Regions from separate parts of the Homo sapiens genome. Here region 1 is linked to region 2. Evidence: fine-mapped expression QTL. A gene starts in region 2. The other region holds a variant in brackets. All regions are shown on one strand. Distances are from middle to middle. Region 1 overlaps ZNF276 (zinc finger protein 276). Region 2 holds the start of CDK10 (cyclin dependent kinase 10).

What was found. PIP is the estimated chance that this variant, and not a neighbour inherited with it, causes the effect.
Region 1: its variant is the best candidate, but not a certain one, in a credible set for the expression of CDK10 in whole blood (INTERVAL, PIP 0.84).

What each region holds. Positions count from the first base shown.
Region 1 is chr16:89,726,455-89,730,833 of GRCh38, forward strand. It overlaps ZNF276 (zinc finger protein 276), which reads left to right. Exons shown (of 11, transcript NM_001113525.2): 5 at 825-903; 6 at 2,781-2,864. Among named protein-coding and RNA genes, the nearest start is that of ZNF276, 7.1 kb to the left of the region's middle. RefSeq lists enhancers at 2,203-2,774, 2,912-3,081. The variant A/G (reference allele first, on the strand shown) is at 2,343.
Region 2 is chr16:89,684,665-89,689,043 of GRCh38, forward strand. CDK10 (cyclin dependent kinase 10) reads left to right here and starts at 2,025. Exons shown (of 13, transcript NM_052988.5): 1 at 2,025-2,133. The coding sequence starts at 2,047. It overlaps LINC02166 (long intergenic non-protein coding RNA 2166), which reads right to left and starts at 2,248. Exons shown (of 3, transcript NR_184152.1): 1 at 1,783-2,248; 2 at 146-1,011. RefSeq lists a silencer at 2,210-2,459.

The DNA.
Region 1 (4,379 bases), 42 kb after region 2:
CAAAGTGCTGGAATTGCAGGCATGAGTTACCACGCCCAGCTCAATTTTTTGTATTTTTTGTAGAGACGGGGTTTAACCATGTTAGCCAGGTTGGTCTTGATCTCCTGACCTTGTGATCCACCCGCGTCAGCCTCCCAAAGTGCTGGGATTACAGGCGTGAGCCACTGCACCCGGACTGAGAATAGTAATTTTTAATTATTTTATTTTTTTGAGTCGGAGTCTTGCTCTTTTGCCCAGGCTGGAGTGCAGTGCGCGATCTCGGCTCACTGCAATGTCTGCCTCCCGGGTTCAAGCGATTCTTCTGCCTCAGCCTCCCAGGTAGCTGGGATTACAGGTGTGTGCCACCATGCCCGGCTAATTTTTGTATTTTTAATAGAGATGGGGTTTCACCACGTTGGCCAGGCTGGTCTCGATCTCCTGACCTCGTGATCCACCTGCATCGGCCTCCCAAAGTGCTGGGATTACAGACATGAGCCACCGTGCCTGGCCTAGTAATTTTTTAAATGTCTCAGAACATCCACCAAGTCCAGGCTGTCCTAGAAGGACTGGATCGGAGTCAGTGGAAGGACTGGGCTTTCTGGTTCTGCTGTTCCTGAGGGTTCTGATGCTTGTTGCTGCCTGTGTGCTTCTGGACGTTGGGCTGGCAGGGCAGGATCAGAGGCTGCATAGCACCCTTGGTGGGGATGGGGCCATGGTGGGGAGAACTTGAGGGTCAGGGACCCCAGTCTCCCTTCTAGTCATCAATAGTAGAATCATGCCTCCTTGCAGGTGAGACCTTTCTGTGCTCCGTGTTGGTAACAGGAGCCTTGTTCTTTGTTTCTCAGGGCAGTTGGGTGAGAAGCAGCTTCCATCTTCAACCTCGGATGATCGGGTAAAAGACGAGTTCAGTGACCTTTCTGAGGGGTGAGAGAAGAGTGGGTTTAAACAGCCTAAAATTTCTCCTTCAAAAACCATCAGTGACCTTTCTGAGGGGTGAGAGAAGAGTGGGTTTAAACAGCCTAAAATTTCTCCTTCAAAAACCAAACAGCCATCGTAGGGTCGGCTGCCCATGCGCTGGTACCAAACTAAGCCATCACAGGGGCCGGCTGTCCGTGCCCTGGTTGGGACACGCCTCCTCTCGAGGTGGCGGGAGAGGAGGGGCTGGGGAGCTTCCGAGGCTTCTTGTCTCTGATTGATGGTTTCCTGGGTGCCAGAGAGCACTCCCAGACCTGAGGCAGCTCCAGAGGGAGCCTGATAGGGTTTCTGACCCAGAGCAGCCTAGAAATGAGTTTGTTGAAACCACTCTGGCTGGGTCCTTTGCTTCTGCTACTGTTTTAGGGCCATAGTTTTGTGTTCGCTCCAGATGTTTCTGGAGTAGAGAAACCCCGACTTTAGCCCTTGACTATGACACTGTTGTGGCTTGAAGCCGAGGCTCTGCGAGGAGGTGTTGCAGGAGGACGGGCCTCAGAAGGGACCTCATCAGTGTCTGCAAACTCCCTGGGCCACCCCTGCCTCTGAGCCAAGCGCCATTCAGGGCAGCTGTGCCAGGCTGGGGTTTGCACCGTTTCCACCCTCTCCTGTAAACCTTGGCTGCAACACAGATGCACCTCATCCAAATGAGGACACCCCAGTTTGGGGGCCAATCCCAGTGGGATGTGCAGTGATGAAATCGGGCAGGTGCCAGGAGGCACCTGGGGTGGCTAAGACTGTCCTCAGGACCACCAGGACACAAAACCGCAGCTGAGGTTATAGCATAAAGGCCACAAATCTTTTTTTTTTTTTTTTTTTCCTTTTGTGAACTTTTTTTTTTAGACCGAGCCTTACTCTGTTGCCCAGGCTGGAGTGCAGTGGTGTGACCTCAGCTCACTGCAAACTCCACCTCCCGCGTTCAAGTGATTCTCCCGCCTCAGCCTCCCGAGTAGCTGGGATTACAGGCGCCCGCCACCACACCCAGCTAAGTTTTGTATTTATTTATTTTTTTTTTATTTGAGACGGAGTCTCGCTGTGTTGCCCAGGCTGGAGTGCAGTGGCACAATCTCGGCTCACTGCAAGCTCTGCCTCCCGGGTTCACGCCATTCTCCGGCCTCAGCCTCTGAGTCGCTGGGACTACAGGCACCCGCCACCACGCCCGGCTAATTTTTTGTATTTTTAGCAGAGACGGGGTTTCACTTTGTTAGCCGGGATGGTCTTGATCTCCTGACCTCGTGATCCGCCCGCCTCTGCCTCCCAAAGTGCTGGGATTACAGGTGTTAGCCACCGCACCCGGCCAATTTTTGTATTTTTAGTAGAGACGGGGTTTCACGGTATTGGCCAGGCTGGTCTTGAACTCCTGACCTCATGCGATCCACCTACGTCACCCTCCC[A/G]AAGTGCTGGGATTACAGGAGTTAGCCTCTGCACCCAGCCACTTTTGTGAACTTAGAAGTGACTCATGGCAAACCCATCAGTTGCATAGGGTTCGCAGTTATGGGGTGAGGTGGTCGATTTCTCAAAGTCTGCTTAGCAGGAAGCTACCTTTGAGCGCCTCCACCCCTTCTGGGCCGCTGTGGAAAGGGCTGTTTCCAAGTCCAGTGTCCTGGTGCCCAGAGCACATGGCTTGTGGGGATTGCTGGCTTGTGAGCCTGGCTGGCCCTTTGTGTTCGGAAACGGGATTGGAAATTTGGGGATTTTAGATTTAAGACATTTTCAGAAGAACTCAAATGTGGGACATGGGGGTCCATTTGGTATCTTTAGGCAGGAGGTCGTGTTGGGTCTGTCACTGCCCAGGCCCAGGGCTTTGCTGAAGATTCTCTCTTAATTCCTAGAGACGTCTTGAGTGAAGATGAAAATGACAAGAAGCAAAATGCCCAGTCTTCGGACGAGTCCTTTGAGCCTTACCCAGAAAGGAAGTAAGTGGGCAGCCCGGGGTCTGCTGGAGGCATCCGTTGGGCGACCTAGACACCCGCCTGTGCTCCAGGGCCTCTCCCCGGTGCCCACTCAGTTCACTCTCTCGTGTGCGGATCTCCCGAGCCCAGTGAAACGTGGCTTCCCTCAGTGAGCGGGAGGCGGGGGAGGGGCAGGCGGGCAGGTGAGAAGGTGGGTCCTCCTGGTGCTTTGGAGCTGGGACCTGGTCTCGGCACTGTGAGGCTGCCTCAGAGTCCCAGCAGTGGATGGCAGGTGTCTCTGTCGACAGAACCCCGCCTTGCTTGAGAAGGAGGCTCTTACGTCCCTTCTGCCGGTCCTGCCCTGGGTTCACACCCCAGTGTACCCCCGAAGCCCCCAACCCGTCGCTTCTGCTTTGTGTGCGTCCCCAGAGGCCCGAGGACCCAGCTCTGTCATCCTCCCAGTTCTGACCCCATCACTGATGTCCATGGCCAGGCAGCCACGGTCCACTTCCCTGTTGAATGACTTCTGTGAGCTTGTTTTGACTTTGTTTTTAGGGATTTTTATTTTCTCTCTTCAGTTAGAACACAGGCCCTGGTAGTGAGGGCTGGTTTTCACTTGTGCTGTTTTCTTTGCAGCCCTATACCCAGCAGTACCCAGAACACTCCCAGGTAGTTGGTGACTGACCCAGTCCCTGTCCTTGAGCATTTCACAGCCCAGAACAAAGGTCCAGAGGGCAGGTGGCTCTGAGCACCACCGTCAGCCACTAGAACCCTGCTGTGCAGACTGAGAGGTCAACGGCCTTTTTTCATGGAAGTTCTGATGCTGTTAAGTTCTGAAAAGAGAAACGGGAGCAGTGGAGGAGGCCCGGAGAGAGATGCGAAGCAGAGGGCAGGACTGAGCCAGAGGGGCTGCAGCAGCTTCAGCATGAACAGAAAACTGGTCAGGCCCAGAAAAGGTGCCCGGGGGTCCCTACCCCCAGGCTTGTTCCCAGGAGTCATGGCTGGGAGTGCCGCCTGAGGCTGCTGTACGGAAGCCCCCACTCCGTGACCCTCCGGGTTGAGTCTGAATCCCAGGACACCTGAGAATGTGTCTCTGGCTTGCTGCCCAGAAGGTCTGGGGCTGCTGGTGTGAGGAGGGCTGGGAGCTGGGATGGGAGGAGCCAGGCGAGCCTTTTCCGGATCGAGGCAGATTCAGGAGGGGAGGGTCCTCTCTGCTGAGCCCCTGCTGCTGTGACAGGGACAGCACACTCAGACTGTGTCACTAGTCCCTCTGGGACCCCAGGAGTGCAGACAAAGACGTGCTTTGGAACAGAGACACGGGAGATACGTTTTCAGAGGTCTCTAATAAAAGGGGTGACTTCAGTGGAAACCGCTGCGCAGGAGGCAGGACTGGGTGGTAGCAAGCATGGCCTCCTGACTGCGGCGAGTACCAGGGGCACTTGGTTCCCCAGCTGCCACCGTGAGACCCCCCTGGGAACCCAGAAGGGCCTCTGCACAGCCCCCGGCCCGTGTGCTGCCTCCCAGTCTTGTCAACCCTGA
Region 2 (4,379 bases):
CCGCCACCATGCCTGCCTAATTTTTTGTATTTTTTAGTGGAGATGGGGTTTCACTGTGTTAGCCAGGATGGTCTCTATCTCCTGACCTCGTGATCGACCCGCCTCAGACTCCCAAAGTGCTGGGATTACAGGCATGAGCCACCACGCCTGGCCAACACCCCCATTTTGTATACCACACTCAACTCCCCCATTTTCTACATGCTGATCAAAACCAATCTGAATGGAGTCTAGGTCTGGCTGTGGGCTGTTGGGAAGAGGCCCCCAAATCTGGCCATCAACTGGCCGCAAAACTGGCCATAAACAAAATCTCTGCTGCACTGTGACATGCTCATGATGGCCATGACTCCCACACTGGAATGAGGGCAAGGAACACCTGGCCCACCCAGGGCGGAAAACCGCTTAAAGGAGTTCCTGAACCACAAACAATAGCATGAGCGATCTGTGCCTTAAGGACGTGCTCCTGCTGCAGATAACTAGCCAGACCCATCCCTTTATTTCCCGTAAGAAGTGCTTTTAATCTATAATCTATAGAAACAATGCTTATCACTGGCTTGCTGTCAATAAATATGTGGGTAAATCTCTGTTCGAGGCTTTCAGCTTCGAAGGCTGTGAGACCCCTGATTTCCCACTCCACACCCTATATTTCTGTGTGTGTTTCTTTAATTCCTCTAGCGCCGCTGGGTTAGGGTCTCCACGACCGAGCTGGTCCCGCAGTGGGCAGTGGTTTGGGCCCGACCGAGCTGGTCCCGCAGTGGGCGGTGGTTTGGGCCCGACCGAGCTGGTCCCGCAGTGGGCGGTGGTTTGGGCCCGACCGAGCTGGTCTCGCAGTGGGCGGTGGTTTGGGCCCGACCGAGCTGGTCTCGCAGTGGTTTGGGCCCTGCTTGCTCGACTGGATTTCAACAGTGAAGCCAGATTAGAGGACATGCTGGCTGCCCCGATCCTGGACCTGGACCAATGGTGCTTCCTAAACATTCCATGTCAACTTTTCTTTTTCCACCTTCCAGGGCTGGGCTGTGAAAGAGATTGGAGAGGCAGGTGCCTGTGAGAGAAGCTTCTACCAGCCTGGGAAGTCAGGTCTTCCATGAGTGAGGGGAGGTATCTACTTTGCCAAACCTTGTTAGGGAATGCTGACATAGCTGCCTCTTCCTGCCCAGAAGCTAAGCTTGAATGCCACCCCTCACAGAGCTTCTCTCCTGTCTTTCACTCACTCCTGCTTATTTCTGTGACAGAACTTGACAGCATGGACATTGCCACTTGCTTCCTTCAGTCTCCTGGAGTCCCCATGTCCTGAACACAGAGGAGGCACCCAAATGCTTGCTGAAGCCACATCCCTGGACCAAGTGACCTGACCCTCACCTGGAGGACCTTCACCTTCACCTCTCACCTGGAGGACCCTCTCACCTGGAAGACTCTCTCACCTGGAGGACCACCCCACCTGAAGGACTCCCAACTGGAGGACCCTCTTACCTGGGGGACCCCCTCCGCTGGAGGACCCTCTCACCTGGAGGACCCTCTTACCTGGAGGGCCCTTCACCTGGGGGACTCCCCCACCTAGAGGATCCTCTTACCTGGAGGTCCCCTCACCTGGGGAACCCCCCCCCCACCTAGAGGATCCTCTTACCTGGAGGGCCCTTCACCTGGGGAACCCCCCCCCCCCACCTAGAGGATCCTCTTACCTGGAGGACCCCCCACCGAGAGGACCCTCCCCCCCCACCTGGAGGACCTCCCCACATGAAGGACTCCCACCTGGAGGACCTTCTTACCTGGGGGAACCCGTCTCACCTGGAAGACCTTCACCTGGGTAATCGCCGTGGCCTCCCACTACGGCGCAGCCGGGTCGGCTGCCCGGGCTTCACCCTAAAATAAGGCCCGAACTGCAGCAGTCGGAGCCGATCCCTGGAGCCCAGCGCCTAGGGCGGACCCGCGGGAGCGTCTCTTGGTAACCGTTGCTAAGGAGAGGAAGCCCGGGAAGGAGCTTTCGCGCCTGCGCCGCGGGGCCGTCCGCGTCTGCGCCTGCGCGCAAGAGAGGCGGGGCCAGCGCTCGGCATGGCGGAGCCAGATCTGGAGTGCGAGCAGATCCGTCTGAAGTGTATTCGTAAGGAGGGCTTCTTCACGGTGCCTCCGGAACACAGGGTGCGCGGGGTGCCACCCGGGCAGCTCTGCCCGCCTCGCTAGCGGCACTGCCCGGCTGGGTCTGGGGAGCCTCGTGTCGCGCTGCCGCGCCGAGGCTTCCGGCACGGGCGGGAACGACAGTCCCAGAGTTCCCCGCGGCGGGGGCGGAAGCCGGGGCGGGGCGGGCTCAGGACCCCCGACAGCCGGTCCCTGGAGATCTGAGGGGCCGGGGCGGGCTCAGGGATGCCTCGCGCCCGCGGAGAGACGGGCCCGGGACTTGGGAAGAGCAAGCTCCGGGATCCAGCTCGGGCGCTGCTGGGTTCAGCGCCCGAGCTGGGCTTTGCAGGCTGAGCCGCGAGCCACTTGTTTGTGGGGAGAATTTACACCCGCGACGAGTTCGAGCTTGAAGGCTCCCGCTGGGCTTGGGCTGCATGGAGCGGGGTCCAGCGCTGCCTGGCGGCTTCACGCGAACCCTGGGCGCGTCCCTTGCGGAGGTGCCGGTGCCTCCCTCTGCAGAGACCAGGAGAGAGCCTCTGGGCGTTGGGCGGTGTTGCCCAGGTGCACGGCTGGTGGGGGTGGAGAGCCCTGAACTTTGGCCGCTGGTTTGTGTTTTTAACTGCTGGCTGGTGCTCTGAGAGGCCAAGCCACGTGTTCAGTAAGAATCATTAACAGATCGTGGCTGGATGACAACAGGAGCCACACTTTACTCATCCAGACGTGCAGCAGGCGCTCACCGCGTTGAGAGCCGTGTGCTGGACTCTGGGGTGAAGTAGTGAGTTGGCCTTTTCTTTTTTGTTGTTTTTTTGAGACAGGGTCTAGCGCTCTCGCCCAGGCTGGAATGCAGTGGCGTGATCACGGCTCAGTGCATCGTCAGCCTCCTGGGCTCAAGTGATCTTCCTGCCTCGGCCTCCCAAGTGCTGGAATTACAGGCGTGAGCCACCGCCCCCAGCCTGGCCTGGCATTTCTTTGAGTTCAGGAAGTGTGACAAGGATTTGGACACCCAGAAATAAGCGTGTCGAGAAGAGCACAAGCAGAGGATGTGAGAAGGGGAATTAAGGCGGGAAAGGGAGTTTGAGACTAGGCCATCAGTGAGTGACAGGCCAGATGCTTCTGACTCGGTCCCCAGGTGTCAGGAAGGAATCAGACTGAGGACAAATGCGGCCAGTGGCTCACACCTGTAATCTCAGCAATCTGGGAGGCTGAGGTGGGAGGATTGCTTGAGCCCAGGTTTGATACTGAGGGTTAAGAGAAGGGAAGCCGGGAAATGGGGGCTGTGAGGTTTCAAACCTTGCTACGTGTGCTTTTTTTTTTTTTTTTTTTTTTGAGACGGAGTCTCATTCTGTCACCCAGGCTGGAGTGCAGTGGCGCAGTCTCGGCTCACTGCAAGCTCCACCTCCTGGGTTCACGCCATCCTCCTGCCTCAGCCTCCCAAGCAGCTGGGACTACAGGCGCCCGCCACCACGCCCAGCTAATTTTTTCATATTTTTAGTAGAGACGGAGTTTCACCGTGTTAGTCAGGGTGCTCTAGATCTCCTGACTTCGTGATCCACCCACCTCAGCCTCCTAAAGTGCTGGGATTACAGGCGTGAGCCACTGCGCCCGGCTTACATGTGCTTCTTAGATCCATGGAGAAGGATACAGACTCTACTAGTTCAGAGACCCCAAAATACAGGGCCTCAAGATGATGCCTTTTTTCACTCTCCCCTAACATTCTGGAGAGAAGCAGTTGTTTTGCACAGGTGGGTCAGGCATTCTGGTTCCATTTTTTCTTCCCGTCACTGAGGTGAGAAGAGGTGAAAGCTTCCTTTCACCTGGAAGTCACACGGTCCCTTCAGCTCACATTCCAAGGCCAGATGCCACTGGGTAGCGTTTCATAACTTCCAGGAGGTAGTGATACAGGGATGCTGGGACAGCAGCCTCTGCCACAGATGTATTTTTGTATGTGGGATTGAAAGGGAGTATCTGAGTGGCCGCCTCTGATATTTCTTTCAAAGCATTGGCCCAGTATCGTCACCACCTTTTCTCATCAGAAAAGCCCAAGAGGCCGGGTACGGTGGCTCACGCTTGTAATCCCAGCACTTTGGGAGGCCAAGGCGGGCAGATCACTTGAGGTCAGGAGCTCAAGACCAGCCTGGCCAACATGGTGAAACCCAGTCTCTACTAAAAATAGAAAATTAGGCGGTTGTGGTGGCACCTGCCTGTAATCCCAGCTACTCAGGAGGCTGAGGCCGGAGAATCACTTGAACCCAGGAGGCGGAGGTTGCAGT